Homo sapiens: one gene and its partners. The protein of the gene in region 2 purifies or fractionates together with the protein of the main gene of each other region. This does not show direct contact. Each region holds a gene or a part of one and is shown on either strand. Other genes may lie near its edges. The genes, in order: RPP40, POP4, RPP30 and RMP24.

Evidence for each region.
Region 1: the proteins of POP4 (region 2) and RPP40 purify together in Homo sapiens (affinity purification with mass spectrometry; 5 studies listed by BioGRID and IntAct, with this or other methods). This does not show direct contact.
Region 3: the proteins of POP4 (region 2) and RPP30 purify together in Homo sapiens (affinity purification with mass spectrometry; 6 studies listed by BioGRID and IntAct, with this or other methods). This does not show direct contact.
Region 4: the proteins of POP4 (region 2) and RMP24 purify together in Homo sapiens (affinity purification with mass spectrometry; 4 studies listed by BioGRID and IntAct, with this or other methods). This does not show direct contact.

The regions. Positions count from the first base shown.
Region 1 is NC_000006.12:5,001,023-5,008,750, forward strand, and holds the start of RPP40 (ribonuclease P protein subunit p40), read right to left. Parts: upstream 3,016-7,728; 5' UTR 2,981-3,015; coding exon 2,858-2,980; exon of another isoform or gene 2,794-2,857; intron 1,224-2,793; coding exon 1,079-1,223; intron 1-1,078. UniProt on the Homo sapiens protein: Component of ribonuclease P, a ribonucleoprotein complex that generates mature tRNA molecules by cleaving their 5'-ends. Also a component of the MRP ribonuclease complex, which cleaves pre-rRNA sequences.
Region 2 is NC_000019.10:29,601,670-29,609,372, forward strand, and holds the start of POP4 (ribonuclease P protein subunit p29), read left to right. Parts: upstream 1-4,613; 5' UTR 4,614-4,649; coding exon 4,650-4,656; intron 4,657-6,987; coding exon 6,988-7,040; intron 7,041-7,703. UniProt on the Homo sapiens protein: Component of ribonuclease P, a ribonucleoprotein complex that generates mature tRNA molecules by cleaving their 5'-ends.
Region 3 is NC_000010.11:90,866,988-90,875,084, reverse strand, and holds the start of RPP30 (ribonuclease P protein subunit p30), read right to left. Parts: upstream 3,112-8,097; 5' UTR 3,099-3,111; coding exon 3,017-3,098; intron 217-3,016; coding exon 161-216; intron 1-160. UniProt on the Homo sapiens protein: Component of ribonuclease P, a ribonucleoprotein complex that generates mature tRNA molecules by cleaving their 5'-ends. Also a component of the MRP ribonuclease complex, which cleaves pre-rRNA sequences.
Region 4 is NC_000018.10:35,967,863-35,975,731, reverse strand, and holds the start of RMP24 (UPF0711 protein C18orf21), read right to left. Parts: upstream 3,054-7,869; 5' UTR 3,004-3,053; coding exon 2,927-3,003; exon of another isoform or gene 2,866-2,926; coding exon of another isoform or gene 2,848-2,865; coding exon 2,825-2,847; intron 837-2,824; coding exon 637-836; intron 1-636.

The DNA of each region.
Region 1 (7,728 bases), on a different chromosome or scaffold from region 2:
CCCTGACCAACAGCCTATTTGTGCAAGTTTACTATCATCAAGCAAAAAACTGACTCAGAACGGAACGTGACCTTTGGGGATGCGCGGAGAGGGGTCCAAAGTAGAATTCTAGATAAACATACACCTCTCAGAGACAGAGTTCCAGGTTAAGATTCAAAAGCTACCCAACCTCTCCAAGCCTCAGTTTCCTCACTGTTAAATGAGGATCATAGGCTTGCTTCATAAAGTTGTTGCAAGGGTTAAATTTGGTAAGACATTTAACAGTGCCTGCTACAGCCATTGTCCACGTAATTCACAGAGTGGTGTCAGGCCTTGAAATAGATGAAAGGAATAACGGTGATGAGACCAGACAAGATGCCCAGCTCATAAGTCGCCCCAGCAGTGTCAGAATGAGAGGAGCTACTGGTAACTAGAGTTCTTCATATCTTCACTGGAGAGGACACACATGGGGGCTACCACAAGATAAGCATGTGGCCACTGTACAGGTGAGTTATGTAGTGTGGGTGGAATCCCTAAAGGCCCTCTGAAATAGTTTCAAACAAATGGCTCCCAGGAATCAACTGAAACAAACCAGTCCAACCCAGCAGATATGGGTGGAAATGGGGTGAGTAGAGGAGGGGTTATGGCTACAAAATCTAAGCAGAAGACACTGGACCCCAACAAGCACTTTGCTCTGTGAACAGTAGCTGTGGCTGTATCGGGAGACCAACCCTCTGAGACAGCTGCTGTGGGACTGCTGACAGCATAGTGTCTTTGCAGCCACATCTTCAACAGCAGTGCATCTGAACACAGACTGCAAGTCTCTCCTCTCCATTAATCCTCATTTTAAGGGGACGGATACTGTCATGTTACAACATCCCCATCCAACACTTGTGGCCAATTGCAATCAGAAACCACCACCTAAAGAGGGTACAAGAAAGAACAGGATGAGAATGCGGGGGAGAACGCGTGTGCACCTGACCACACAGACTATACCACAGGCCCTGTTTGAAACAAAACAACAGCCCTAGCATCGTGATGTGGTCTCCCTACCCTTCCTCATCCAGCCTTGTTCACAGCCATTTCAGGTTTTTCTTACCTTTCTTTATAAAGGTACTGATGAATTCAGGTGTAATTAATTCATGAAGAGGTAAATTCTTCACAAAGTAATAGGGTCCAGTGTTCATGACCAGGTTTTTCAGTTCTTCCGATAGTATCCCACATTCAGGAATGAGAAATGAAACCTATTGGAATGTGTAATACAAACAAGGTCTTACTTCCATGAAGATGAACACCCAGGTTTTTAGGAATGAAACAAAATCATGAAAGTTGTTATTTCTCCACGAGTTTCACTGGAACATAAAAACACGGGCAACAAAACTCTTATGTTAACTTACCTATCTCAGGCAAAGAGAAATCTGACTACTTAAGTTTTTCATTTCTGCATTCAAACGTACAGTACAGGAAGGGGATTGAACAGAATACTTTTAATGGAAAACTCGTGCTTGCATTTAATCTTTTGCAAATTAGCAATGCTGTATATTTTATGTCCTGTTCCTTTCACTATTTTATTTTCAAGGAAATATAGTATAATTGAATATCCCTTGATTTGTTTACCCTGGTGTTATCCTGGAATGAAACAAACTATCTGTCGGGGCATAAGGAATTAATTTATGGACATCCAATTACTAAGAATCTATGTGCAAGCAATGGTGCTCCTGTATGTTTTCATTTTCGAGACAGAAAAATGCAACAGGCGAGTTAAAGTATACATCCCTGACTGCTGTGATGAGCTTGACATCCAAAATAGGTGTTAAAAACAGGGCAGGCTTCAAATGTTGCCACATTGTAAAAGTCATCACTGTCCCAAGGCTCAAACACCAGCCTGTTCTGACTGATCAGGTCACCACTTAACATCTCTGAAACACTGCTCAGTCAAACCTGAGTTATTAAGCTGATCCATTTAAAGTGTAAAATGTTTAATCCCCCATGATAAGGTTAGTTTCTTGAAGTCTCTCAGATATCAAATTAGTTCCAACAACCAATTTAGAAAATCAGTCGCTTCGGCCGGGCGCGGTGGCTCACGCCTGTAATCCCAGCACTTTGGGAGGCCGAGACGGGCGGATCACGAGGTCAGGAGATCGAGACCATCCTGGCTAACACGGTGAAACCTCGTCTCTACTAAAAATACAAAAATTAGCCGGGCGTGGTGGCGCGCGCCTGTAGACCCAGCTACACGGGAGGCTGAGGCAGGAGAATGGCGTGAACCCGGGAGGCGGAGCCTGCAGTGAGCCGAGATCGCGCCACTGCACTCCAGCCTGGGCGACAGAGCGAAACTCCGTCTAAAAAAAAAAAAAAAAAAAAAAGGAAAATCAGTCGCTTCCTGGGCCGAGCCTAGGCAGGATGCTCTGGTGAGATCCACAGGTACGCAGGTGGGAGAGGGATTCAAGCTGGGGAGGAGGCAGTGGTGGGGAGGAGGCGCGAGACCCGCCCTGATTTGGGGAAAAAGCGAGGTGCACGTGGCTGCCCCACAGCCTAACTCCCTGGTCCCGGCCCTGAACCTCGAATCCCTCCCTGGACTCACTCCCAGTTCGGCGGGTTGACACGAGTGAGCAGCCAGAACGCCCCTGACAACAGCTCCCTCCAGACTGGGTACCGCCCCCACGCCCGGCGCATCCTGGGAGTTGTAGTCCTGTAGCCCTGCAAGCCACTGGCTTAGAGCAGTTAAGAGACTACAACTCCCAGCAAGCCGGGCGAGGGCCCCGCCCCTCCGCGTACCGCCGGCGGCCCCGCCCCGCGAAGCCTAGCACTCTCCCCAAACCTCTCTCGCACGCGGGGACTGAGCACGGCCCGAAAAGCCGAGGACAGCCGGACTCACCCTGTAGTTATAGTAGTGCGTCTGCACAAGATGCCGGTGGCGCGACTTGTGGTTGCCGAAGTTGGATTTCTCGCAAACCAGTAAGTGCCGCGGCGCCTCCCGAAGCCGGCGCAGCGTGGCCATGCTCTCCTGGGTTCCTGGTCCTCCCGGCCTCCGCTGGCGGGGCACGCCCCGCCCCTTCCTCCCGCCCCGCCCCTTCCCTCCGGCCGCATACCCGCTGCTGTGCGCCCCTGGCGGCGGTGGAGTGGGGATGGCGGCGCTGGATTTCTGAGCAGTTCTTAGACTTCTTAGGAGCCCACGCAGCCGCTCTTTGGTGGATGTCTGAAGCTGTAAATTCACTGTCCCAGTGGCTGGGAACCTGGCTCTTGCCTTTTCAACGCCACTTTTCCTCCGTCCCCGCCATCCCTTGGAATTGCCCTAAACCCTCTCTGTGGGCCCCGCCTCGGAGCGCCCCTTGGACCCCAGCCTGGCGCCGGCGCATACCTCGGTCAGGCCCCTCAGAGGGACCGCTTCCTGCCACCGTTATAAAAGGAAAACATCGCATGGAAAGGCCCAGTTCCTTTAGTATATGGTCAAGAAATGTAGCCGCACAGTTAAGTAACCCCCTAAGCTGCTTTGGGGGCCACACCCAGCTGCTTTCTGACTTCTCACACTGTTTGGTTCACAGGACTCTGTTACCCATTGGGGACCTCTTGGCCATTATTAACACAGGCCAACAGGACTAAAAGTTTGTATCAGTCCTTCCCAAAACATTAGGGAAGGTTGTGCGGGAAGGTAAAGCACAATTTTTGCCTTACAATAGGACTCCTTTGAAACTACTATTGAGTTCCCTTTTAAATAGCCCTTCAGAACCGCTTTTAATAATGTGTTGTTTCTGGGGGTTAATAGTGATAATTCTCCTAAGTCATTTTTCCATTTCGTTTTTCTGTCACGGGCTTGGAGCGGTTAAGAGACTGCGGCTCCCAGCATGCGGTACGTTACTGATCAGGGCAAAATCAAGTATGTTACTACATGCTTCTCAAACTAGAGAGGCACAGCCCCAATTCTGCACTGGCAGGATACAAAACAGCAGAATATTGGTGATACATCTTCCTGGAACATCAGTTTTTCTATGAGATGTGGAAGAAATGGAATTAAGTAGTTTACAAGGTAAATAATTAAGAATTTAAAACTAAGCCAGTCACAGTGGGTCATGCCTGTAATCCCAGCACTTTGGGAGGCTGAGGTGGGAGGATCACTTGAGCTTAGGAGTTCAAGACCAGCCTGGGCAATATAGTGAGACCCCATCTCCAAAAATAAAAATAAAACTAAGACAAGGCTGGAAAGTCATCTGCCATTATAAACATCAGTAATCTGGCCGAGCACAGTGGCTCACGCCTGTAGTCCCAGCACTTTGGGAGGCTGAGGTGGGAGGATCACTTGAACTCAGAAGTTCACGACCACCCTGGACAATATAGTAAGACCCCATCTCAAAAAAAAAAATTAAAACTAAGACAAGGCCGGAAAGTCATCTGCCACTAAAAACATCGGTAATCTGGCTGAGTGCTGTGGCTCACGCCTGTAGTCCCAGCAATTTGGGAGGCCGAGGCGAGCAGATCGCCTGAGGTCAGGAGTTCAAGACCACCCTGGCCAACATGGTGAAACGCTTTCTACTAAAAATACAAAAATTAACAGGGTGTGGTGGCGCATGCCTGTAATCCCAGCTACTCAAGAGGCTGAGGCAGAAGAATCACTCGAACCTGGGAGGCAGAGGTTGCAGTGAGTCAAGATCTCGCCACTGCACTTCTAGGCTGGGCGACAGAGTGAGACTCTGTCTCAAAAAAAAAAAAAAAGTCAAAATGTAATCTATGACTGAAATGTCACATTTTCTTTCCAAGGAAAAACCTAATGAGAACCTGTTTCCCATTATTTTAAACAGCAGAATTATAAGGCGTGGCAAGTTAATTAAAAAAAACCCTACTAATTTCCTAGATCACAATATGGCAGCTAGATGTTTTATAAATAACAGCTACTAATAACATGTTAAGATGTAAAAGGCTTAAAGCATTGCTTCTTGGTCACCTCATATTTAATGTAATTGTCACCAGACAGTTGCTTTGTGTGTGGTAGCAGTGGCCCAAGACTGAAACATCACGGATGTACCTCTCCTTTGTCGACATTCCAAAACTCCACAAAGTGACTGGTGTGATCCTGATGGTCTACCAATTGTATTTGGAAGCACCGTGAAGCTTTTCCAGCAAACCATTTAGTTTAAAATGTTGCATATTTTGAAGATGCAAAATAAATTCTATCTATGTAAATATCAGCTGAAAAATGTATTGAGAGATATAAACTGCCCTCTTCTCAAGAGAGACCCCACAGAGTCTTGCAGCTTTAAGTCCTCCTCTCTGGCTGCTGATAACCCCTAGATGTGGCGCCTCTTCCCTGAGCGGAGTATCCAGATGACTCTAGTACAAGGACTCACCCCTGACTTCTTCCCTTCTCACCCGCCATGCAATCCCACAGTAAGTCTTGTGGCCCTGCCTGCAGCACGCATCCTGATTGCAGCCTCTTCTTGCTCTCTGCGTTTCTACAGCCAGTTTCAGCCACCTTCGTCACTTACTGGCCTGCTGCCCAAGACTGCCTCCAAACCTTCTCCTTGCTGCCTCTCTTGCCCTCCCACAGTCCATTCTCCACTCAGCATCCAGAGTGATCTCTTAAAAACATGAAAAACATAATATACCCCCACAGCCCCATTTAGACCCTACCACTGGCTTCTCACTGTGATGGAATAAAAGCTTACACATTGGCCTGAGCCTGCCTCTTCAGCCTCATCTCCTTCCCTTGCTTATTCACACTCTGTCTGTCAGATTTTCTGGTCTCTAGAGCTGAAAGCAGTCTTAACTGACAAACAGATATTAGATCATAGAATCTAGAGCACAGGGTATGGAAGGAAAAGTGCAAGATGGAAAAGCCAGAAATGGTTAAAAAAAAAAAAAAGCACATGAAACAAAACATATCTATATGTATACCCAAAATAGTAACATAATTTTGAAAAATCTGAGCTAATAGACTTGCAAAGAAATAGAAATATCTTTGATCATATTCTGAAAACAAAAAAATATAGACTTAGTAAATATAAAAGGACAAAAATTTTACACATCCCATTTCCGGGCCATAATGCAATAAAGTTAGAAAGAACAGAAACAGAATTGGCCGGGTGCTGTGGCTCATGCCTGTAATCCCAGCACTTTGGGAAGCCAAAGCGGGTGGATCACGAGGTCAAGAGATCGAGACCATCCTGGCCAACATGGTGAAACCCTGTCTCTACTAAAAATACAAAAACTAGCTGGGTGTGGTGGCATGCGCCTGTAGTCCCAGCTACTTGGGAGGCTGAGGCAGGAGAATCACTTGAACCCGGGAGGTGGAGGTTACAGTGAGCCAAGATCTTGCCACTGCACTCCAGCCTGGCAACAGAGTGAGACTCTGTCTCAAAAAAACAAACAAAAACAACAACAAAAAAAAAAAACAGAGAAAGAAACAATTTAAAGATGCTCAACTCTTTGACAATGTTAAAATATTCTTTTAAATAAATTAATGCCTGGGTCAGGGTGCAAATCCAAAACACAATGACAGTGTCCATAAACTTCTGTGCTTGTAAATGTATCATAACCATATACAGGCCGTATTGGTGAAAGGAGACAGCTGTCTGACTCAGAAACACAGGGAGTGATCAGGTTATGTTCATTAGGATCCTAGCACTGCCCTGGAGTTGTTTAACATCATCTCTTTACAGTTAGGAGCAGACTGCAGGGAAATGTATCTATTGCAGACAACTGTGCTAAATCAGAGGCCGCCCTCCTGCTGAACCTGAACTTGACCTCACAGTTCCTGTCAGCACAGGGTTCTAGGCAGCTGCTACAAATCAACTGGTGTTGGCTTACAGATTGAAACTGCCCTCAGACAGCAGAGTGGAAACTGGCACCAATGGCTGCAATGGAGAAAATTAATGGCCTGTGGGCCACACACGGTGGCTCATGCCTGTAGTCCCAGCACTTTGGGAGGCCAAAGCGGGTGGATCACTTGAGGTCAGGAGTTCGAGACCAGTCTGGCCAACATGGTGAAACTCTGTCTCTACGAAAAATACAAAAGTTAACCGGGTGTGGTGGCGCATGCCTGTAATCCCAGCTACTCAGGAGGCTGAGGCAGGAGAATTGCTTGAACCCGGGAGGCGGCAGTTGCACTGAGCCGAGATGGTGCCACTGCATTCCAGCCTGGGCAACAGAGTGAGGCTCCATCTCAAAAATAATAATAAAATAATAATAATAATAATAATGGCCCCTGCTATGGTCTGAATGTTTGTGTTCCCCCAAAGCTCATGTATTGAAATGCAATCACCAATGTGATGGTATGAGGAGGTAGGGCATTTGGGAGGTTAGAAATGGGATTCATGCACTTATAAAGGAAGCCTCAGAGAGCTGCCTTTCCCCTCCTTCTATATGAGGACAGAGGGAGAAGATGCCATCTAATGAACAAGAAAGCGGCCCCTCCCCAGACACTGAATCTGCCAGTGCCTTGATCTTGGACTTCCCAGCCTCCACAACTGTGAGAAAGAAAAGTCTGTTGTTTATAAGTTACCCATTTTATGATGTTCCCTTATAGCAGCACAAATGGACTAAGACAGCCCCCAAGAAGAATGTATGACCCACCTAAGAACTAGACAGTGTCATTTTCTCCTGGGCTGCTCTCTCCGTGACTGGAGTGGAGATCAGTGAAGGACACAAACATTAACCATGGCAGCTCCATAGGCCATATCGCTGTACGGAGGTGCACAAATGAAGTCATGCCTTAAAAGCAGAACATGGCCAGGCATGGTGGCTCATGCCTGTAAT
Region 2 (7,703 bases):
CCTTTCAGCGGTAAAAAAAAAAAAAAAAAAAACCTACTAGAGGCCAGGTACGGTGGCTCAGGACTGTAATCCCAGCACTTTGGGAGGCCGAGGCGGGTGGATCACTTGAGGTCAGGAGTTCAAGACCAGCCTGGCCAACATAGTGAAACCCTGTCTCTACTAATAGCAAAATTATAGCCGGGCGTGGTGGCAAGCACCTGTAACCCCAGCTACTCAGGAGGCTGAAGCAGAAGAATCCCTTGAACCTGGGAGGCAGAGGCTGCAATGAGCCAAGATCGCACCACTGCACTCCAGCCTCGGCAACAGAGTAAGACTCCATCTCAAAAAAAAAAAAAAAAAAAAAAAAAAAAAAAAAAACTAGAAATAATGTTTTTCTTTAATCCGAAAGTGGAGGAGAGGGGATACACAAAAAAATACTTCTCCACTATATTGTCAGAGGCTATTAGATAAATGGTTTCTGTAAATTTAGTTGTGTTTATTTACAGAAGTCCTAATTTTCGTGGATACCCACTTACTTAATAGTTGAGGCTTAATCTTTTTGAGCTTACATATGAGATTTTTCTTGAATACTCAGAATAGCAGCCTGAATGTCTCAGAGCAACAATCAAAAGGAACCTGTACAAATACAACAAAGTGTGAATTGTAGAATCAAAAAGCATATGGGTGTTCACTGTTTAAATGTTTCCATTATTCTGTATATTTGAAGTTTTTCATAATAAATTGCTGGAGGTCGGAGGGGAGTCACCTGCAATGATTCCATCAAACATTGACTTCTCGTGGAACTTTCACAAAGCCACTACTGGGAAAACACATGTGTATCCATGTTTGAAAGTTTATCATTTATAGCTATAAAAAAGAAAAAAATTAAAGTCTTTTCACCAAATGCAATTTAGAAAAGAGAAACAAAAGGAAAAATCTCCCATAACTTCACTTACCCGGTTATACAAACTTTTAGTATATTCATGTAACTATTGTGTATATATTTGGCTTTATTAGTTTGTAACCTTTTTAAAAATTGTATGTAATTTGTTTAATGGCTGCATGGTAATCCATCATGTTATAGAAATGTGTTAGCAGTGGCAGAGAACCGAGTTACCCCAAGTAACTGGAGACGAATCCGTACGCGTTCGCAGCAACTTCAATCTTTGCCTTGTCAAAAGAAAGAATTTGACTGAGGGGCAAAAAGCAGAAAGAGACCAAGGCAAGTTTCAGAGCAGGAGTGGAAGTTTATTAAAAAGCTTTAGGCCGGGCATGATGGCTCACACCTGTAATCCCAGCACTTTGGGAGGCCGAGGCGGGTGGATCACAAGGTCAGGAATTCGAGACCAGCCTGACCAACATGGTGAAACCCCATCTCTACTAAAAATACAAAAATTAGCTGGGTATGGTGGTGTGTGTCTCTAATCCCAGCTACTTGGGAGGCTGAGGCAGGAGAATCGCTTGAACCTGGGAGGTGGAGGTTGCAGTGAGCCAAGATCGTGCCACTGCACTCCAGCCTAGGAGATAGAGCAAGACTCCGTCTCGGAAAAAAAAAAAAAAAAAAGCAAAGCTTTTGAACAGTAAGGAAAGGAAAGAAAAGGAAAGTATTATACAAGTTGGAAGGACAAGCAGGCAACTTGAGAAACCAAGAGCGCAGCCTGACCCCTTGACTTGGGGTTTTACACGTTGGCCTACTTCCAGGATCTACTTCCAGGATCTTACATTACTTCTCCCCACTCCTGAGATCTTACAGGAAGCTGCTGATCAGTTTCAGGTGTTTTCTATCTGTTAGGCGGCTGCCTGTTCCCTAGCGCCAGCTGTGGCCAATTACTTTAGAGAAACAGTTAACAACCACCTGACCATCACCTGATGGTGGCCCAACACCCCTGGTGTGTGTAGCGGGGAGCCTTCTCCTGCCCTGCTCATACCTGACTACCTACCTACTGTAACAAATGTGCCATACCTAGGAACAGTTTATAAAAACAGATTACTGGGACCCACCTTATAAAAACAGATTATTGAGACCCACTGGATAAAAACGAATCTCCAGGTATGATACCAAGAAATTTGAAATGAAAGCTTACCCTGTGATTGTGATCCTGTATTTGGTCTGTGGATCAAGCAAATTAAGTGTGTGCTAACTAATCAGGTAAATTAATGCATTTAATAATGCATTAATTAGCATACCTAATTACCTAATTAGCACATAGTTAATTTGCTTGATCCACTATGATCAAATATAGCATTGTTTTTAAGTTTTTGCTATTATAAACAAAAATCACAAACATCCTCACAGGTATCTCTCTGCATACAGAAACATTTTCTGAGAATAATCAAGTGGTTTGTTTGCTTTTTATTTTTTTTGTTTGTTTGCTTTTTAAAAAATATTTTAGGCTGGGCGCAGTGGCTCACCCCTGTAATCTCAGCACTTTGGGAGGCCGAGGCGGGTGGATCATGAGATCAGGAGTTCGAGACCAACCTGACCAACATGGTAAAACCCTGTCTCTACTAAAAATACAAAAATTAGCTGGGCGTGGTGGTGTGTGCCTGTAATCTCAGCTACTCAGGAGGCTGAGGCAGGAGAATCACTTCAACCTAGGAGGCAGAGGTTGCAGTGAGCCGAGATCACACCATTGCACTCCAGCCTGGACAACACAGCAAGACTCCGTCTCAAAAAAAAAAATATTTTAATGATGAAGGAACTATGTTGTAATTGCAACTCAAGGACGACCCACCCCACCACCATCAGGGAATTCGAGGGGAGACTGGCAGTTATCCAGGGATCCCAGAAGGAGTCAACTGGGAGTTAAGAGTCCTAACAACCCTAGAAAAAAACTTTCAAAGACACAGGTCTTCTCATTAATCTCCATAATCACAGAGGTCTTGCCTAAAAGGGCCCCCCTTGAGTACACAGCTCTGAAACTGGCTAACATCTTCTGCTGTCTCATTTGATTTTAAAGTTCACATTTGTGAAGGGCTCTATTGTACAACATGGTGACTATAGTTAATAACAGTGAATTTCAGTTAATAACCTGAATTTCACTGAGAGTAGGTCTGAAGTGTTCTCATCACAAAATGAGTGTATTAGCATCGCTCATAGCTCATTTAGCCATTACACAATGTATACACATTTCAAACCATATTGTATACCATAAATACATACAATTCTTATTGGTTAATTTTAAAAATAATAAAAGTTCTCTATCAGTCCCATAAATTACAATTTTCAGGCATCTGCAAAGGCAGCATGTTTTGGTTTAAATGTGGTCTTTCCAAATTTTATACGTATAAAATAAATGCATAAGTGTACTACATATGCAAAAACTAATACATAAATTTTATAAAGTCAATGCACGCGGGGTCACTGGGATGAACCAATTTCAGTGCCTGCAGTCTAATGTTTAAAATCAAAATGGTACAAGGTCACCACCAAAGAAATTGTTTAAGCCAATGTTTCTCAAACTAAAACCTTTGGACATACTCCCAGAATCCCCTGTAAAGAAATGTATACTGTACTCAAAGTTGAGAACCACTGACTTAGCATAAAGGGACCGTATTTCTTTTCTCTCCCACCCAGCACAGGCCCAGTGCTCAGCAGAAATTGGGGCTCCACAGTTCTGCCCAACACTGGGTCACTGCTGAGAAGTCTGCACCAGGCCTTCCTGCACCTTTCCACTGAGCAATGGAGTTTGTTTATTCATTTATTTATTTATATGGAATTTATTTATTTATTTTGGAGACAGGGTCTCACTCTGTCACCCAGGCTGGAGTGCAGTAGCGCAATCCAGGTTCACTGCAGCCCTAAACTCCTTGGGCTCAACTGATCCTCCCACCTCAGATACCCGAGTAGTTGGGACTACAAGCACGCACCACCACGCCTGGATAATTTTTTTTAAATGTTTTGTAGAGATGGGGTCTCCCGATGTTGCCCAGGCTGGTCTCGAACTCCTGGGCTCAAGAGATCCTCCCGCCTGCGCCTCCCACGGTGTGAGCCACCTTTGATCTTATTGCTATGATTTTTTTATTGATAAAAACTAATAAATATTCTGAGTCTCAAGAAAGCTTTCTGAAACTATCAAAGGGACCCAGGCGGCGCATCACTACCTGTGAGGCCGACCCCACTCACAGCACAGACTGCAAGTGAGGCTTACAGATGGGAAGTGCCCTAAGCGAGGTTAAACAGCTAGTTAGCAGCAGACACGGAACTAGAACCTAAGCCTGCTGTCCCAGCTTCGGTGCCCGTGCTCACAGCGGAAGCTGCCTCGGCTCATCCGTAAGGGCGCTGATTAGGGACGACAAAGACCTCACCCCACCGTCCCCGTCCCATTTCCGCCCTCCCAGATCCCCAACCTCCTTCGAGTCCTCTCCAAGTCGCCTCGCCTCGCTCCACTCCAGGCCTTAGCAAGCATTCCACATGCCTTTACCCCAACCCTACTGCCTGTCCCCCAAAAGATGCAGGCGGAAAAGACCCCAGGAAGCGAGCCCACTCCTCCCCACTGCTCAGCAACACCGCCTACGACGTTCTCAGTAGCCGAATCCCTTTCCAGGCGCATGCGCCCCCGAGGTGGGCGAGCGCCGGTGATGTCACGCATAGCGCCATCTCCGAGCTCCGAGAGTCTGCGACAGCAGCTGCCAGTGCGTCATCAGAGAGCGCCGGAAGCGGTCCGAGAATGAAGAGTAAGCGGGGCCGCGAAGTTGGAGAGGGTTGGGGACGTTAAGGGTCGGGGTCTTGGTACTGGTGGGTGAAATGGGTCCGGGCTACCTGTTGCTGCGGAGTCCTAACAGAACCGCTACAGGAATGGGCCCACCCTACCTAAGAAAAACTGAGGGCTGGAGCACGGGTTAGCCTGGCTCGACCTCTGAGCTAGGGAGGGATGTCAGGGCTGGAGGCAGGTTCTCCCGGAGGCTGCTCAGTGGTGTGCGATGCTAGAGGAGGGTTCCAGGCCTTGGCTCAACTTGGCCACTATCTCCCGGGGTGACCGCGGTCAAGATCCTGCTCCTTTCTGCGAGCTGGTTTCACACTCTTAACCTGATGCAAAGCGCCGAGAGCTGCTGGGGAATGATATCACTAACCCAAAGCTTTGGTCCTTAGGGGTAGAAGACATGTGCCAAGGAGGGGCGTGTAGACACCGTTAAGACTGGGCCTTCAATCAGAATTTTTATTTTTCATCTCTGCCACTTTCTACCTATATGATCAAGTAGATTGTCTCGGCATGTCTGAGCTTCAGTTTGCTCATGCACATAAGTGTAATGAGAAAAAATATGTGTACCTTGTAATGAGGTTTCTGGCAAGTAATGGATGTTCAGTAATTGTTAGATGTGTATTGTTGCAGAAAGACTTCCAAGTCTGTTACTAAGCACCTGTAACAGATGAAGCAAAGTTATCAGGCCCCGCAAGTTGCTCTCTACAGTTTATAATCCCCATCTTCCATTTGAGGGAGAACTAGATGCTATATATAAAACTTGCAACCACATTGGTTTGCTTGATCAAACAAACATACCTGGCTGGGTGTGGTGGGACACGCCTGTGGTCCCAGCACTTTGGGAGGCTGAGGCAGGGGGATCACTTGAGGCCAAGAGTTGAAGACCAACTTGGGCAACAACATAGCGAGACCCTGTCTCTACAAAAACTGGAAAAAAAAAAAAAGAATTAGCCAGGTGTGGTGGCACACACCTGTAGTCTCAGCTACTCAGGAGACTGAGGTGGGAGGATCACTTGAAACCAGGAGGTCGAAGTTGCAGTGAGCTATGATTGTGCCACTGCACTCCAGCCAGGGCAACAGAGCAAAACCCAGTATCAAAACAAACAAACAAACAACAAAAAAAAAAAACTTGTAACCACCTTGCATCAAACATTCTCAGGGAAGTACAAGAAAGCTGGAATTAAATTTACAGAGTATAGTGTAAATTACATTTTCTAGCTATTTAGCTCATAAACCAGGCCTTAGTAGTCCCATTCTTATTCCATTCACACCTGTACTCTGTCCCCAGTGCCATGGTTTTCTTCTTTCAAAAAATTAAGAAACAGAAGTGTGGAATTTATTTTAGAGGTTGAAACTTTATTGACCAATGTATATTTTGAGTTTAAAGGAAAAACTTGTATTTTATCAGTTCAGGACACCATCGATTATGTGACACATTATAATTTCATATTAAAATGTGAAGAATCTTTTTAAACATCTTACAGTTAACAAAACCTATTTCTAACCATCTACATCCTAGACAGCTATATCATATAACTTTTAATGAGTTACCTTGTTAGCAAGTGCTCAAGCTTCTAACTTGGGGTATTTTAAACCAATGCAACTCAAAATGTGATTCACTGACCTGCAGTAGTATCTGGGAATATGTTAAACACTCAGGATCTAGGGTAGGAGACCAATAATCTGCATTTTAATAAGATCCCAGAGATTTTTACACACGTTAAATTTTGAGAAGCATTCTTTTTAAACCATGTGCTTGGAACTTCTAGCATAGATGTGGCCAGAGGGTGGGATAAGAGGCATCCAAGAAAGCTTTGCTCTTAATACCAACCTCATCTTCTCCTATCTCTGAATAAGCAGTTGTTCTGCTATAAGTGTAGAAGTGTAGTTATTTTCTTTTCTTTTCTTTTCTTTTTTTTTTTTTTTTTTTTTTGAGACAGAGTCTCACTCTGTCACCCAGGCTGGAGTGCAATGGCACGATCTTGGCGCATTGCAGCCTCTGCCTCCCAGGTTCCAGCGATTCTCCTGCCTCAATCTCCCATGTAGCTGGGAATACAAGTGCAAGCCACCATCCCCGGCTAATTTTTGTATTTTTAGTAGAGACGGGGTTTCACCATGTTGGCCAGGCCGGTCTTGAACTCCTGACCTTGGGTCAGGATCCGCCCGCCTTGGCCTCCCAAAGTGCTAGGACTACAGGTATGAGCCACTGCGCCTAGTGGCGTAGTTATTTTCATAGTTAGAAAAGTCTTGGGTCTTACAGCCATACCCAACAAGAATTGATCATTTCTTTTTTTTAATCCCCCAGGTGTGATCTACCATGCATTGTCTCAGAAAGAGGCGAATGACTCCGATGTCCAGGTCAGTTCTTGGCAGGGAGTCCAGGAGCAACAGAGGTGATGGCAAAGATGGCTCAGTAGCTTCTGAGCCCCCAGCACTGATTGAGATGTCCTTTCCCACATCATACTCCTCATTTTTCTGGCAGACATCTAAGGCTGGATCAAAGTCTGTAGTTCTCATTACCTGTTCCCACGTGCCAGCCTCCTTTTCTGTTGTGCCAAAGTCAAGTTTGGTAAAATGAGGCTTTCCTTAACCTTTTATCATTTCCCACTGTGTTGGGGACACCAGGCTGTGCCCACGTGGTGGGCAGCATCATTCAACCTTGTCACTGTGCCCTCTGCACTTCTGCAGAAGGTGTGCAATCACATATCATAAGTGAAATTTACAGATTATATCTGAATGCCTCGGCCTGCTTTGTCAGTTTTGCAAAAGTTCCTCTTGTGGCTCATAATGAGAGCATTACCTTGAAAGCAAGATTTTGAAAGACCAGTATACCTTTATTTTGCTTCTCCATGAAAGATGAGCCACTCAGGTATTTAAGAGAATCAGATCATTGTCCTATTATAGTCACAATGACGAGAGTGAATTAATTTTTAGTTAGCATCTACAGGTGCAAAGCTGAAGCAGAGTTCCCACCATCATACTGTGAGCTCCCTCGAAGGCTATATGTACCCTATCTTCCCA
Region 3 (8,097 bases), on a different chromosome or scaffold from region 2:
TATGCATCAGCTCGACTGTTTCTATATAAAATAGAAAAGTAGTAGTGCACAAAGGGGTGCATTTAAGAAATATTCTAATCTGTAGCTTCCAAATTACCAATACAAACAGAATTACAAATACTTATTTATGAACTTATTAACTTTAGAAATATTATTTTACCTGTTTCTTTTCCTTAAAGTCAACGATATGATTGATAGCAACAACTGAATAGCCAACTGAAAAAGAAAAATTGAACACTTTTGTTAAATATAACAACCTCTCCTTCCTGTAACACAGGTCCATCCTGAGTCTAGATGTCAAGAGTAGGAGGACATTTGAGGAGTGGTTATGAATGTGAACTCTAGTGTCAGTCTGCCTGATTTAAAGTCTATGCACTACCACTTACAAGTTACTTAACATGAAGTTTCAGGTTCCTCATCTGTCAAATGGTGAAAATAACAACACTTTCTTCATACACTGTCATGAAATTTAAATGAAATAATACACATGAGGTGTTTGAGAACAGTGCCTGGCACACAGGTCTTTGTTTAACCATTATGAATTATTATTAAAATGATACTAAAGACTCTTAACTTTGTGCTTCTCCTTTTCAAATGTCATTCTCTTTCATGACCCTATATTCATTTTTATCCCATCAAGTTCCTACTTTATCACTGTCACTTTTATTCCCGTTCATTTCTTTTGCTTTTTATCCTTCTACTTCCTTCAGAGACTCCTTTCCTAAGGAGAAATGGAGTGATAACTCCCTCACACCACTGCCCGCTTCCCATTTTAAGCTGCACACCATCGACAGACTGGGAGCTCCTTGAGGTCAAGGGCTTGCTTTATTATCCTCATCAGTTAGCACTGTTCTGGACATTTGGGCTACCAAAAAAAAATCTAAATCATGACTCCCATCTTTAATTTTTAAAAATACCAATGGGGATGAAAGGATATTAACATTAAAATACATATCAATGCCAAACTCTCAACAGTTTGTCCAACTTCCTTCTTCCCTTCCTCCCTCAAATATTTACTGAGCATCCATTACTTGACAAGCCCTAAACTGGTGTTGAGCATACAGGATAAATAATATAATCCTTCTCCACAAGAAATTTACAGCCTAGTCTGTTGGAGAACGAAGGCAAATAAGGCAATTAAGCAAGTCATTGTATATAAATACATGTTTTTTATAAGTAAGGATTCTATGGAAGTACATAGCACAGTGAAACCTGGTGTAGGGGTCACAAAAGGCTCCCTGAAGAAAGTTACCCTTAAAAACAAAAAAAAAATCACAAGTATGCCTGTACCTTGGGCTTCACCTTGCACCCAGTTAGTCAAATCAACCAGCCACACCTCCTCCCTATTCTTCTTTACCACACTCCCAAATCTGCTCTAAACTTCCTTGTTATACCCATTTAGGATATCCTTTTGGCTACTAAACAATGTCCCTACCGTTCTACAGAAATGTCAACTAGGATCTGTTTCTCCACAAAACTTTTTCCTAGACTACTCCTCATCTGGCAGCTTAGGAGTACTTACTTCCCCAATCAGGCTTTAGGGTATTTTAATTTACACAGTATATTTCTGAAGCTTATTATTGGTTTCTTGTATCACATCAGAAACTGAGAACCAGGGCTCTGTCTTTCCTATTCTTTGCAAATGTCCACTATTTAGTTCCAGACTCATCAAATAGCAGAGCAGTCCTTTGTCTTTGACTTGTAAGTTGAGGCAACTTTATATGCCATGAATTCCATTTAATTTACAAACAAATAACCACTAACAATGTACATATATTACCACACCTCTTCCAAGTGTATTTTAAACTGGGGGAAATTCTCTAAAGAAATCATTATTAACTTTTCTTTTTTGTATTAATTTTTTTAATGTGTTCAGTTTATTCCACAAGCATTAACTGAGTAACTGCCATGTACTGGTGCCTGCAGAGTGAACGTGTTAAGCACAGTAAATAAAAGGATAAGACATGGCAATTCTCTTAGGAAGCTCATGATTTATTCAAAAATGGGATGGCGTCAGGAAAAGCCTCATTGAGGAGGTAATAATTGCGACAAACTACACCTAGGAAAACTTATTTTACAGGATCAAAGAACATTAGCGCCAAATGGCCCAGATCATCATGTCTACTTTCGTCTTCGTGCTGATGAGCAAAGTACCACAGAGATAACGTTCATTTAGTGGCAGCAGTGGAAAGGGACAGTCATTTCGCCACGGATACTTCATAAAGAGAACAATAAAAAAGTGGTGTGATTCACTTTGCCAAGAAGTGGTTGTCATTTCTAGCACCACCTCTGAACAGTATCAGTAATCAGAACTCACAATGAGCTGAAAACTGTCTCTGAGGAGCAGATGTTACTACACGAACCTCTTGATTCTTTTTAATCTCTCTATTCCAACACTTTACAGTCTACGGAATACAGAACCCATGACTAACTCCAATAGTTAAAACAGGTTCTCGTCTCTCAAGGCTTTCGCTTCCCTTCGATTTGGGCCATGCTATCCTCCTCCTCCACCTCCACTCCGCTGTGTATGTCCTCTGCCCCCACCTACCCTCTCTCTGTCTAGATAGTATTGTTCCAACACTCCCACGTCCTCCTCCTTCTCCGAGCCTCCACGGCGCTTCCTGTCCGTGCCCCAAATTCCAGTATTTGTTTAGACACTGTCGTGAGAATCAGGAAGGGCTGATAGTAACTTAGAAGCTTAGAAGATTGTACCCTTGGAGTCCAGCTCCGGCTTCTGTCACCTATCAGCTGTAGGCCCCTATGCAAATCCCTCGCCCTCGTTAGGCCTCAGTTCCCTCATTGCAGGAAAGTAGCTGAACCAGATAACAACCCCCAGAACCTTCGAGTTTCCCGCGCTAGGAATCAGACCAACACCTCGGCGGGCATCAGCCTCCAGGGACATCCCAGAGACTCTGGGAGACCTGACCGAGACCCATCAGGAAATAGTTACTCCGGAGTGTGGCCCGATGGTCTGGGTGGCATGAGGTTGGCCAGGCGCGAAGCCGGGGCAACTCACGGTGAGCGGCTGTCTCCACAAGTCCGCGCAGAGCCTTCAGGTCAGAACCCGCTCGCAGGTCCAAATCTGCAAACACCGCCATGCTGAAGTCCCATGACCGTCCGCGCGCGCCAGTCTGCGCAGCCGCTGAGCCCGCCCCTCAGGCATGCTGGGAGCTGTAGTTAACCTGCGCAGTCCGTCTCTACCTCCAGTTGACTAGGGATTCGGAGAAACTTACTTGCTTTGCTTTCATCTACCACCAGAATTTGTGTGTTGAAATCAACAGCTTCATTTCAATCTCTCTTTGTCTTCTTCTGAACGACAATGTTTGGTTCCCCCTGGAGGGGTTCCAATTCCCAACTATTCAATACTCCTATAAAATAGTGTAGAAATGAATTCATTCAAAATGCACGCACACGGTATCTACTTAGTGCTGCTCATGAATCAGAGAATTCTGCTAATGGGTGAAAACGCTATTTAAAGAGTCTTAAAGAACACGTTTTCCTTTCCTTTCCCTAAAGTCCATTCCGTTGTTTACAATGGACTTACCGGGAAGAAGGCGTTTGTGTGTGACGGACTCTAGGACTTCAAAAGAGAACTACCCCAAGACGAGGGTCTTTTTACCCAATCAGAACTGTTGATGTCAAAGCCCGCTATTCTCTGTGGCAGTCAACATCTTCAACCACAAGATGGCGGGACTCGCTCTAGGACGAGCGGTTAGAGCCAACATTGATTTAGCCAAAGACATGTTTGAAAAGGGAGGTGCAAAATTGAGATGTTTTACACTTTTCCAGCTGAGAAATGTACAAGGTGACGCATATCCCACATATCTGATGTTTCCACTTTTTTCCGACTTAGTGTAAATGATCTATTGAGGATAATAATCAATTATACTACAAAAGTGTGACTATAGTTTACATCAGTGCTCTCAAACTACCTGTGATGAAGGATCAGTTTCTCCCTCCTTTTCCTCTACCCCCAAACTCTTCGCGAACCAGGATGTGGTCCTTTATGCATTACCAGTAAGCAGCCTGGCCTCATGGGAATCACAAATTTGACAACACTCGAACTGCCCTATACCTGGCTGAATAGAATCTGCTGATCAGGAGCTTGGATTATCAGGACAATGCCAAAGTACTGTAAACTTTCTAAACATCTTCACTTTTTGTTTGTTTGTTTGTTTTATTAACGTGCGCACAGCAACAACAATCACAGAATTAGAGGCTCGGTCATTTGACCTAGGGAGTATCCTAGTTGGTGGCCTGCTGAGTTTTCGTTTCGTTTTGTTTTGTTTTTAGAGAGAGTATCTCGTTATTGACCAGGATGGACTCTAACGCAAGCAATCCTCTCTCCTAGCTGTGATTACAGGAGCCCACCCACATGCTTCACCCATCAATTTCTCTTATTTACTGATCACAAACAGTTCACAGATAGTCTCTCGTCTATGGACCACACCTTAACTAGTACTCCTTTATGCGATTTTCTTGTCGGTCTCAGAAGGGAGGAAGGATCTGTTCCATGCAGTAGCATGCAATTCTCTTCTTGGTTAACTTTTGTAAAGAAGAGATATTTTGCCTTTTCCAGTACTTGATATTTCCTAAGTGGGAGTAGAAGAGAATATTACTTCTGCAAATAGAATAAGGTCATATGAAGCAAACGCTTTGTTTTTCATGAGAATATCTAGTGTTAATTTTGCAGGGTCACACAGGCATCATCACCTATGACCATAACAATCTAGATTGGTCAGAAATATGACCAATGTGTGGTGAAGGTGAATAAGGTGATAGTTCAATTATTTTTTCATTTTTAGTTGACACATTGTAATTATACATATTTATAGGGTACAATTTCATGTTCTGATACATGTATATGTTGTATAATGAACAAATCAAGGTAATTAGCATATTCATCACCTCATGCATTTTTGGTGATAACATTAAAAAAAACTCTTCTAGCTGTTTCGTGATATATAAACAATACCTTACTGTTAACCATAGTCACCTTGTGTGCAATACAACATCAGAACTTATTCCTCCTATCTAACTTTGTACCTGTTGACCAACCTCTCCCCATCCTCCTCCCTCAATCCCTCCCTCAATACCAATCAGTTGGCTATAGGTGCATGCATTTATTTTTGGTCTCTCTATTCTGTTACATTATTGGTCTATGTGTCTGTTTTTCTGCCAGTACCATGCTGTTTTGGGTACTATAGCTTTGTAGCATATTTTTAAGTCAGGCTTTGTGATATCTCCAGCTTTGCTCTTTTTGCTCAGGACTGCTCTTGCTGTTTGAGGACTTTCGTGGTTCCACACAAACTTCAGGATTTTAAAAAATATTTCTGTGAGGAATGTCATTGGTATTTTCATAGGGATTGCATGGAATCTGTAGATCGTTCTGGATAGTATGTCTACTTCAACAATATTATTTCAGTTCATGAACATGGGATATCTTTTCACTTATTTGTGTCATCTTTATTTCCTTAATTTTTTTTATTGTACAGATCTTTCACCTTCTTGGTTAAGTTTATTCCTAGGTATCTTTTTTTGTAGCTATTGTAAATGGAATTGTTTTCTTGATCTTTTTAGATAGTTCCCTATTAGCATACAGAATGCTACTGTTTTTTTGTATGTCAATTTTGTATCCTGCAACTTCACTGAATTTACTTGCTAGTTTTAAATGGTGGAGTTTTTTTGGGGGAGCCTTTAGGGTTTTCCATGTATAAGATCATGTTGTCTGCAAACAGTAATGATTTGAGTTCCTCCTTTCCAATTTGGATGTCTTTTATTTCTTTTTCTTGCCTAATTGCTGTGGCTAGGAGACTGTTTAATTATCTGATGCTAGTATGAGACTAAAGTGGGCTTCTTTGAAAGTCACAGAACTTTTGCTGTGGACTGTACCATATAAACTTCTTTTCTTCTCTGCACCCTAAGCCTGGGTGAAGAGGAAGAGAAGAGGTAAGAAAGAATAGGAATAGATAACAATCAGTATTTAGCACTATACTGAGGGCCAGCGAATTTGCTAAGTACTTATGTATGTATCTTATTTTCAAAGCAGCTGTGTGTTAAATGCTGTTTTTTATTTTTGTTTTATTACTGTTTTCAGATCTAGACTTGCAGAAGTACTGTTTTTTACTTTTTGTTATTTTGTTTTTAAAATCAATATCCATTTTTTATATCTGAGAAAACTAAGGCATTATTAGTGGTAGAACTACATGTGGATGGAGGCAATTTGTTTCAGTTCTTGCCTAGTGTACTGCTTCCTGAGCAAAGCAAGCAGAGACTAGAGTTGTTTGGGAGGGAGGAGGAGAAGAAGAGAAAAGAAGAGAAGGGAGACCAGAGAGGAGAGAAGGAGAGTAGAGGAAAGGAGAAGTAGGAAGGGAGAAGGAAGGAAAGGAAAGAAGTGGAAGAGGGGAGAGAGAAGTGGAGAGAAGAAAAAGACAAGACAGAATAGGGGAGATGAACAGGGAAGAGGGGTCAGAAGTTGGCCTGAAGGGATGGCTGTGGCAACAAGTATCTGCACCTTGAAGAAGACCATAGAAATTTCTGACTGGAAGATAATAGTACTGTTTAAGACTGGTAGCAGTGGCTCACACCTGTAATCCCAGCACTTTGGGAGGCTGAGGCAGGAGAATCACTTGAAGCCAATTCACGACTAGCGTGGGCAACAAAGTGAGACCCTGTCTCTACAAAAAATAAATTAGCCAGAAGTGGTGGCACACACCTGTAGTCTGAATTACTGGGGAGGCTGAGGTGGGAGGATCCCTTGAGCCCAGGAGTTCCATGTTATTATACAATGAGCTATGGATTGCACCACTGCACCCTGGTGTGGGTGACAGAATGAGACCTGTCTCTTAAAAATCCTAGCTACTTGGGAGGCTGAGGCAGTAGAATTTCTTGAACCTGGGAGGCAGAGGTTACAGTGAGCAGAGATTGCACCATTACACTCCAGCCTGGGCAACAAGAGTGAAACTCCGTCTCAAAAAAAAAAAAAAAGTACTGTATAATTATGATAAGCATTTTACATCAGTTATCTGATTTGATCCTTACAATAGCCAATGAGAGAGATATTGTTATTCCCATTATATCAAGGAGAAGTCCTGGGCTCAGATAGGATGGCTCTTGAGTCATTTCTTCTTCTGCGGGAAGCCTAGAAAAAGAGGATGGTTTTTCACATCCAACGCAATCATTGAGCCCTTCTCATCCTCCCAGAAGAGCTCTCTTTTCTGGGCTGTGTGTGGGCTTGGGTGTGTGCTTGATTAGTCTTTGGCCTTATCCTAAGTTTATTCCATTCACCCCTCCTGAGTGAACTGAAAAATGCTCCACCCAACCCCTGTCCTCTTGCAGCTTAAGGCCGAGGGGGAGCCAGGCAAGAAAACCATATTATAAAATGATTTAGCCAGATGTATTGGGAGCACAAAGCAGAGATTTATCTCCCAGATTGAGAGGGAAGTTTGGGAGATCTGAAGGGAAAAAATGGCAGTTTCCTTGAGGGAGTAATGCTTGAATTAAATTTTGACACATGGAAGTGGAAGAGGAACATACATGAGACAGAGATCTAGGGTGTTGAGGGTATATCCAGAGCTGGCACAAAGTAGGTGGTACTCAGCCAAAAGTAACTGATTGAATAAATGAACTCATGGCCTCTTGTTTGACTTTGTTCCCATATCAACAGAATTGTAGCACTGTTGGATGTATTATTTAATCACCTGGCCAGAAATTCACTGAACTGTGCACATGGTGCACTAGTGTGATACACCAGCAACTGAAACAGAACCATCCTCTGTGTCCCACATGGTGGGACACTTATAGGAGCTCTTGGGGAGACTAAAAGAAGATGCCTTAACTCCAGGCTGATATTACAGTTGCCCTATTCATCACATATCTGGAAGTTTGTGCAGTGAACCATCTGCCCAGCCTTTCCCAGAAGCCCTCATAAAGCAGACCAGAGGGGTTAATTGCTAAACCTAGAACTCTAGTGGCACTCCATAGGACATCACCAATCCAGGGAGCTGCTCACAGCTCACAGTGATTCCTTCCTCATCTTCTTACCTTCCCCCAGAAACTCTTGTTACTGACCTGATATCATAAAAATTTGTCCACTTT
Region 4 (7,869 bases), on a different chromosome or scaffold from region 2:
TGAACAGTTGATAAATGTTAACATAAAATATGCAGGGATATAAAGTGTATTTGCTACTGGCCTCCATATAGTAAACCGTACGTAATCTGATTTTGGTTGTTTTATTCCATCTTATATCCCCAATATTAAATGTTGCTTGGCATATGATAGACCCTCAATAAAATGTTGAAAGAACAAAAGATGCATTCACCTTTGTTGGGCATACCTGTAAATCCACTCTGACATGGAGTGGGAGGACAGCTGAAGAAGTGACATGATACCTACATACATAACATAGTACTATCTGAAGCAAAGGAGCATTAACTGAAAAAATAATGTAGTGGTAACTGCAATTTAGGTGGAGCCATAACGGTCAGTTCAAGAAATCCGCACATTTGTGAAAAATAATGCTCAACAATGGGATCTCAAAACAATTGAGAGCTCACCATGTTTGGTTTAGGTAATCATGAAAAATAAAAGTAAGCTGTCCTTATAATGAAACACTAATCATTAGAGAAGTGTTTATGTATATATTTTGATAATCCAAATATACTACTATAAATCTCTGAGTTATACTGAGGCTGATTCTTAAACTGATTTTAAGTGAAAGAAAAGAAAATTCTAGTTTACTCATACATACTGGAACTGAAATCTTACCAATACACTTTTGGAGTCTTTGAACTTTTTCACCATTTTTGCTTCTTTAAAACTGAGTGTATAGTTTCTCGCTTCTCGATTAAGAAGTTTCTGTATTTTGGGTGTCAACCTGGCTTTGGGTTTGAGACGCACTCGAGAGTTATCCAGAACCAACAGCTGGAAACAGTATGGACACGTTTCTTCAAAAGTGCTCTTATCATCTAAAATTATACAAATGAAACTCACAATTCAGCAAATCAGAATATTTTGTTACCTCAAACTGTCAACATTTATAAAAAGTATATTGAAATTTAATATAAGCAGATACACATTAAGTAAACTCAAAATATGAAAATTTACAAAAAGATAAATTGGCAGTAATTTACCTTGCAAAATACTACAATTCCATCCATTCACTCCTTTCAGCAACAGATAGGCAAATCTCCAACCTATGCTAGCAAATCCTGTAGGCTTTAAAATATATCCTAAATCTAGCCACTTCTCATTACTTGCTACTAAGTTTTAAAAGGCTGTTATGTTTCACCAATTTTACCAATGCATTTACCACAAAATAACAAATTGCACTGCGATTTTGTTTCTTTTTTTAAATAATTAGCACAATGAATAGTATCTACTGTTGAGCACTGTGCTAAGTGCCAGGGATGCAACAGCACTTATAAAGCTAAAGACCACACTTAAACTTAGCTCTGCCAAATGTGAAACTCATTCATATTCACTAAGTGACAATTAAGAATGCCAGGCACTGTTCTAAGTGCTGGAGACACAGCAGTGAACAAAGGACAATTCACCGAGGCATACAATAAATATAACAACGTCAAATGTTAAGTGCTGGGAATAAAAAAGTAAGATAGGAGGGGGGAATAGAAGTATTGATGGAGTTACTGTAATTTTAAATAGGTGGCTAGGGAAAGCTTCATTGAGTGATATTATAGAGACCAGAGGGAAATGGAGGATTCACATGAAAGCAGATATGTGAGGCAAGAATCCCAGGCAGAGTGAAGAGTACCTGCAAAGGCCCTGAAACAGAAAAGCAAGGAGACCTAGTGTGACTGGAGTTGCGTGAAGGAAAGAGTACGTCAGAGAGGTATGCAGGTCTATGACACAGGGCCTTACAATCCTTTTAAAGGACTTTCACTTTTATTAATCCAGGAGAGAGCTGGTGATGGCCTGGAGCAGGGTAGTAGCAATGGATGTGGTGAGGAGTGGAGTGCAATGGCGCCATCTCCGCTCACTGCAACCTCCACCTCCCGGGTTCAAGAGATTCTCATGCCTCACCCTCTCGAGTAGCTGGGATTACAGGCGTGCACCACCATGCCAGGTAATTTTTTTGTATTTTTAGTAGAGACAGCGTTTCGCCATGTTGGCCAGGTTGGTCTCGAACTCCTGGCCTCAAATGATCCGCCCGCCTCTGCATCTCAAAGTGCTGGGATTACAGGGGTGAGCCACCGCTCCTGGCTGATTTTGGCTACATTTTAAAGCCAACAGGATTTGCTCGCATACTGGCCTGGGGGAGGAGAGAGAGTTAGGGAGTCAAGAATAGCTCCAAGGTTTTTGGGCTCAATAACTGTAAGGGAAGAATGGAATTATTTACTGAAATGAGAAAAACTGGAGGATCTTGTTGGGGGTTAAAGCTCAGGTTTTGGACATATTAGCTAAGTTTGAATTACTAGACATTGAAAAGAATTTGTCAAGAAGACATTCGGATATATGAGTCTAGAATTCAGAGGAGAGGTCTGCGCTGAGTATATACATTTGTAAGTCCTCAGTATATGGTATTTAAAAGCCATGAGATTGGATGAAAAACTGTCACCAAGGAAGCGAGTGTGCCTAGAAAAGAGGTCCAAGGGCTGAGTACTGGGCCACGACAATACTTAAAGCTTGGGGAGATTAGGAGGAACCAGCAAAGCAAATCGAGAAGTAATAAATGAAGAGGTGAACTACGTAATGACCTAGAAGCCAAGGGAGGAAACTATTTCAAGACTGATCAATGTGTCAAATGCCGCTAACAAAGCAAGACAAGGCACATTAAAGAATTTGGATTTTTCACGAAACCGAGACACATGCGGGCTTTGTTGTTGTTGTTTTTATGGAGGGAAGTGAGTCCATCGGCCTTATTTGAGCGTTGTGCGGAACAGAGGAAAGCGGGGCGACAAGAGCCCAAAGCACAAGAGACAGGCGTTCTTCTTACCGTGCGACGAAGTGTAGGCCCAGCTGTAAAAGAGAAAGAGACTTGTGAGGAGCAAAGGAACACCTACCCGCTCGCCTCCCGCTTCCCCTCCAGTCCTCTTACAGGAGGTAGCGGGCTTGGCCCGGGCAGCTGTCGTGCAGTCCCCGCGCTGCAGCCTCAAGGTAGTGCTTCTGTCTCATCGCCGCCGCCGCTGCCGCTGGCTCGCCGCGGGAACCAGGTGAGAAAATAGGGCGCCGGAAGTCGGCTTCCCAGCGTCCCCGTCGTTGGTGTCCGGACTCAAGCTGCTTCCGGAAACAGGCACCGTAGGCAGACAGGTTCCGGTTTCCTTCGCGTCCAGTCTGGCTTGGAGGCGTGCCCAGCCGGGAGGCGGCCCCACCCGCCCGCCGCGTCCCCGCCCCCTCAGTTCCACCCCTTGGCCTGCCGGGTCCTCTCAGGCACCCAGCGGAGTTTCGAGTCAGACTTGAGCTCGGGCGTAGCGGCTAGACCGGGCTGTGGCGATAGAGTCCAAAGGTGAGGCTCCCACCCGCCTCTCCATCTTCCTCCCGCCTCGCCTCCTCTCTGACAGCCCTTTTGTGATTGCCCTGCCGCAGCTTCGCCCTCCACATTCGCCGGGCGCGGTACTGACTGGTGCGCCGGCGGGCGGAAGCGCTGCCAGCAACGAGGCGGCCGGGAGGAGCGTCCCCAGTCCAGCCTGCCCTCCGCCTGCGTAAACGCTAGCGTTTCTCTTTTTGTAATTAAAGTGAAATTCACATAACGTAATATTGACCATTTTAAGGTGAACAATTCAGTGGCGTTTAGTAAATTTACAATGTTGTGCAAGCACCATTCTGCTATTTCCAAAATATTTCGCCGAAGGACAGCCAACTCCATGAAGCACTTACGGCCAATCCTCCTCTCCCTCCCAGGCCTTGGCAACCACCAGTCCGCTTTCTGTCTCTATGGATTTACCTATTCTGGGCATTTCATGTAAATGGAATCATACACACGACCTTTTGTGTCTGGCTTCCTTCACCTAGCATAATGTATCAGGTTCATCCACCTTGCAGCACGTATCAGTACTTCATTCGTTGTTATGGCTGAATAATATTCCATTGTATGGCGGTATCACAATGGTTTATCCATTCATCAGTTGAACGTTTGAATTGTTTCTACTTTTTGGCTGTTATGAATGAATGCCGCTGTGAACATGTGTGTACATGCATTTGTTTGAGTGCCTTTTTTCTGTTCTTCGGGGTATAATACCTAAGAGTAGATCTGCTGGGTTATGTAGTAATTCTGTGCTTAATGAGGGTTCCAGTTTCTCCGTATCCTCACCAACATTTGCTTTTCTTTTTCTTTTTTTTTTAAATCTAGCCTTCCTAGTGAGTATGATGTAGCATCTCATTGTGGTTTTGATTAACATTTCCCTGACTACTGATGCTTTTGAGCAGCTTTTCATGTGCTTGTTGGCAATTTATGTATCTTTGGCTGTTTAAGTTCTTTGCTCATTTTTTATTGGAGTTGTCTTTTTGTTGATAAGTTGTAAGGTTCTTTTAATGTGTATGTTCTGGATAGTGGACCCTTATTTAGCCTGCTTTATTTATTTATCTGAGATGGGATCTCACTCTGTTGCTCAGGCTGGAGTGCAGTCGTGTGATCACAGTTCACTGCATTCTTGAATTCCTGGGCTGGGTTAAAGGGTTCTCTTGCCTCAGCCTCCCTAGTAGCTGGGAACCAGGCACACTACCATGCGTAGGTATTGTTGTTGTTGTTGTTGTTGTTGTTATTATTATTATTATTTTGGTAGAGATGGGCGTCTCACTATATTGCCCAGGCTGGTCTTGAACTCCTGGGCTCAAGTGATCCTCCCACCTCAGCCTCCCATAGTGTTAGGATCACAGGTATGAGACACTATGCCCAGCCCATTTTTAATTTTAAAAGGGAGCTAAATTGGCTAGGCGCAGTGGCTCACGCCTGTAATTCCAGCACTTGGGGAGGGCAAAGCGGGTGGATTGCCTGATCTCAGGAGTCGGCGACCAGCCTGGGCAACACGGTGAAACCCTGTCTCTACTAAAATACAAAAATTTAGCCAGGTGTGGCGGCATGCGCCTGTAGTTCCAGCTACTTGGGAGGCTGAGGCACAGGAATCGCTTGAACCCAGGAGGCGGAGGTTGCAGTGAACCGAGATCACAGCCACTGCACTCCAGCCTGGGCGACAGAGCGAGACTCCGTCTAAAAAAAAAAAAAAAAAAAAAAAAGGCGGGAGGCGGGGGGCTAAATTATATAAAGATTTGTAAAGAGAAAGTATATATTTACATCTCTATAGGCATTTTAACTTTTTCCGAAGAAAAGTTATTTTCCCTGCTCTTCCCACCTTTCCATCCCACTTCTCTGAGGCGATCAACATGAATAATTGGGTGTCTCCTCTACCTATGTCCTTATACACTTAAGTACGTGTATAAATATGCTACCCCCCACCACTTACCACGACCACAACAAAAAGAAACAAACCAAACACACACACAAAACCAAAACCAAAAGTAAAATGTTAGTTCCTTACTGTATAACTTGTCTTTTTTCCTTAACAGCAGGCCACAGACATCTTTTCAAGTTAGTACATGCTTTTAAATAGCTGAACATATTACAAAATGTAATGAAACATAATTTAATTTATTTAATAAATAACCATATTTTATTTTCCTATTGATGTTCATTTGGAAAAAAATTCGTGCTTTGCTAGTTAATACAGTACTGGTGGTTTTATTTCTTTTGTCTGAATTCCTAAAAGATAAATTACTGGGTAGAATAATATGCACATTTTTTATATGCCAGATCATCCAGAAAAGGTTGTAGCAATTCATATTCCCAGCATCAATGACTAAGAAGGCTGGGTCAAATTAGATAGGTGAAAGGCAAATCCTCTTTTCATTTATCCCTTGATGGTTTGCATTTTCTCTTATGAAGAGAAATCTCTTGTTGGATTATCAGTTTTTAGAAGATCTTTTATTTTGGTGAAATTCACTTTCTGCTTGTCATATGTGATGCAATATTTTCTTCTTCCTTATCTTTGGCATAATTTATAACTTTTTAACATTACAAAATTTTGTATGTGATCAAACAAGTCACTCTTTTCATTATTGGATCTGGGTTTTCTGTGTGGTCTAAAAAGTCCTGCTTTGTCAAAGTTAGGCAACTAACTATTCAATTAGATTTTTTTGTTTGTTTGTTTGAGACAGAGTCTCACTCTGTTGCCAGGCTGGAGTGCAGTGGTGCGATCTTGGTTCCCTGCAACCTCCGACTCCCTGGTTCAAGCGATTCTCCTGCCTCAGCCTCCCGAGTAGCTGGGATAACAGGCATGCACCACCATGCCTAGCTAATTTTTGTATTTTTAGTAGAGACAGGGTTTCATCATGTTGGCTGGGATGGTCTCTATCTCCTGACCACATGATCCACCTGCCTTGGCCTCCCAAAGTGCTGGGATTATAGGTGTGAGCCACTGCACCTGGCTAATCAGATGTTTTTCTCATACTTTTCTAGTATGATTTCTTCCATGCACATATTTAATTGATATGAAATGTATTTTCACTTAAATGTAAGAGCATCTGACATTTTTTCAAAATGGATAGTAAGTTATACAAAAGCCCCATGCTAGGTAAACTAGTCTTTTTCCATTTGAATTGAAATAAAAATAATATGCAATGAGCACTGTATATGTGCCAGGCACTTTTCTAAGCATCTTAACGTGTATTAATTTATTTAATCCTCACAACACCACCATGGCATAGGAGAAATGCCACTACACCATATAGAAGTTCTGTTTTGTTTTGTTTTTTACATAGTTGTATCTGTTTCTAGGTCACTAATAAAGCAGAAAGAGGGAAAATGTGAAAATGAAATCCAATATGTGTGCATGTGCTGAGACCCCAGTGGCGCTAGAGGAATTAAAGACACACGCACAGAAATATAGAGGTGTGAAGTGGGAAATCAGGGGTCTCACAGCCTTCAGAGCTGAGAGCCCTGAACAGAGATTTACCCACATATTTATTAACAGCAAACCAGTCATTAGCATTGTTTCTATAGATATTAAATTAACTAAAAGTCCCCTATGGGAAAGGAAGGGATGGGCTGAATTAATTGCAGCAGGAACATGCCCTTAAGACACAGATCGCTCATGCTTTTGTTTGTGTCTTAAGAATTCCTTTAAGCGGTTTTCCGCCCTGGGCGGGCCAGGTGTTGCTTGCCCTCATTCCTGTAAACCCACAACCTTCCAGCTTGGGCGTTGGGGCCATTATGGACATGTTACAGTGCTGCTTCTTCCTTCCCACGGCTTGCAGCTGGTCTGTCCTCAGGTCCTGCTGGCTCTTCATCAGAAGTAAATCATGACTGCCCGCTTCTCTGCACCACCACAGCCACCCTCTTCTCTTGCCTGCACCCCTGCTATGGCCCTCTGCATTCGTTTCCTGCTTCCTCTTTTATCTCTCCCAGTCCAATTGAAACTGCCTTTGCAAAAATTAACAGTGAAATGATTAGCGTGAAAGAGATCTGACCTAACCAACTCCATCTTGCTTCTAACCTCTAAGCTGTCCTTGTTCATTCCCAGGAATTGGCTGAACTAATTTTGGGAGGAACTTAGTTTATAGTTTAACTTTGTAACAGCCCTTTATAGTTTGACTTTGAAATAAAGATGATATCAGCTCTTTCCCAAAACAAAACCCGTTCTTGCCTGGGGACCAGGCTGCCTTTGTAGGACTAACAAATTAGCTACAAGATTAGAAATTATGGTTTAGGAGCCATGCAGCTGGAGGCTGCAAGATTCTGATCCTCCTCAAATTGCTCCTGGGGATAATAACATCACTGTTGTAAAATCTAAGATCAGTGCTTCGTAATCTGGCTCAACCAGTTCTGTGATCCTCCACTGGAACAGAAGACAGCAAGAAAAACCCACTTTAACCCCCTATGATTTTTTTTTTTTTAAGCTCTGTTGTCCAGGCTAGAGTGCAGTGGCGTGATCTCTGCTCACTGCAACCTCCGCCTCCCAGGTTCAAGTGATTCTCCTGCCTCAGCCT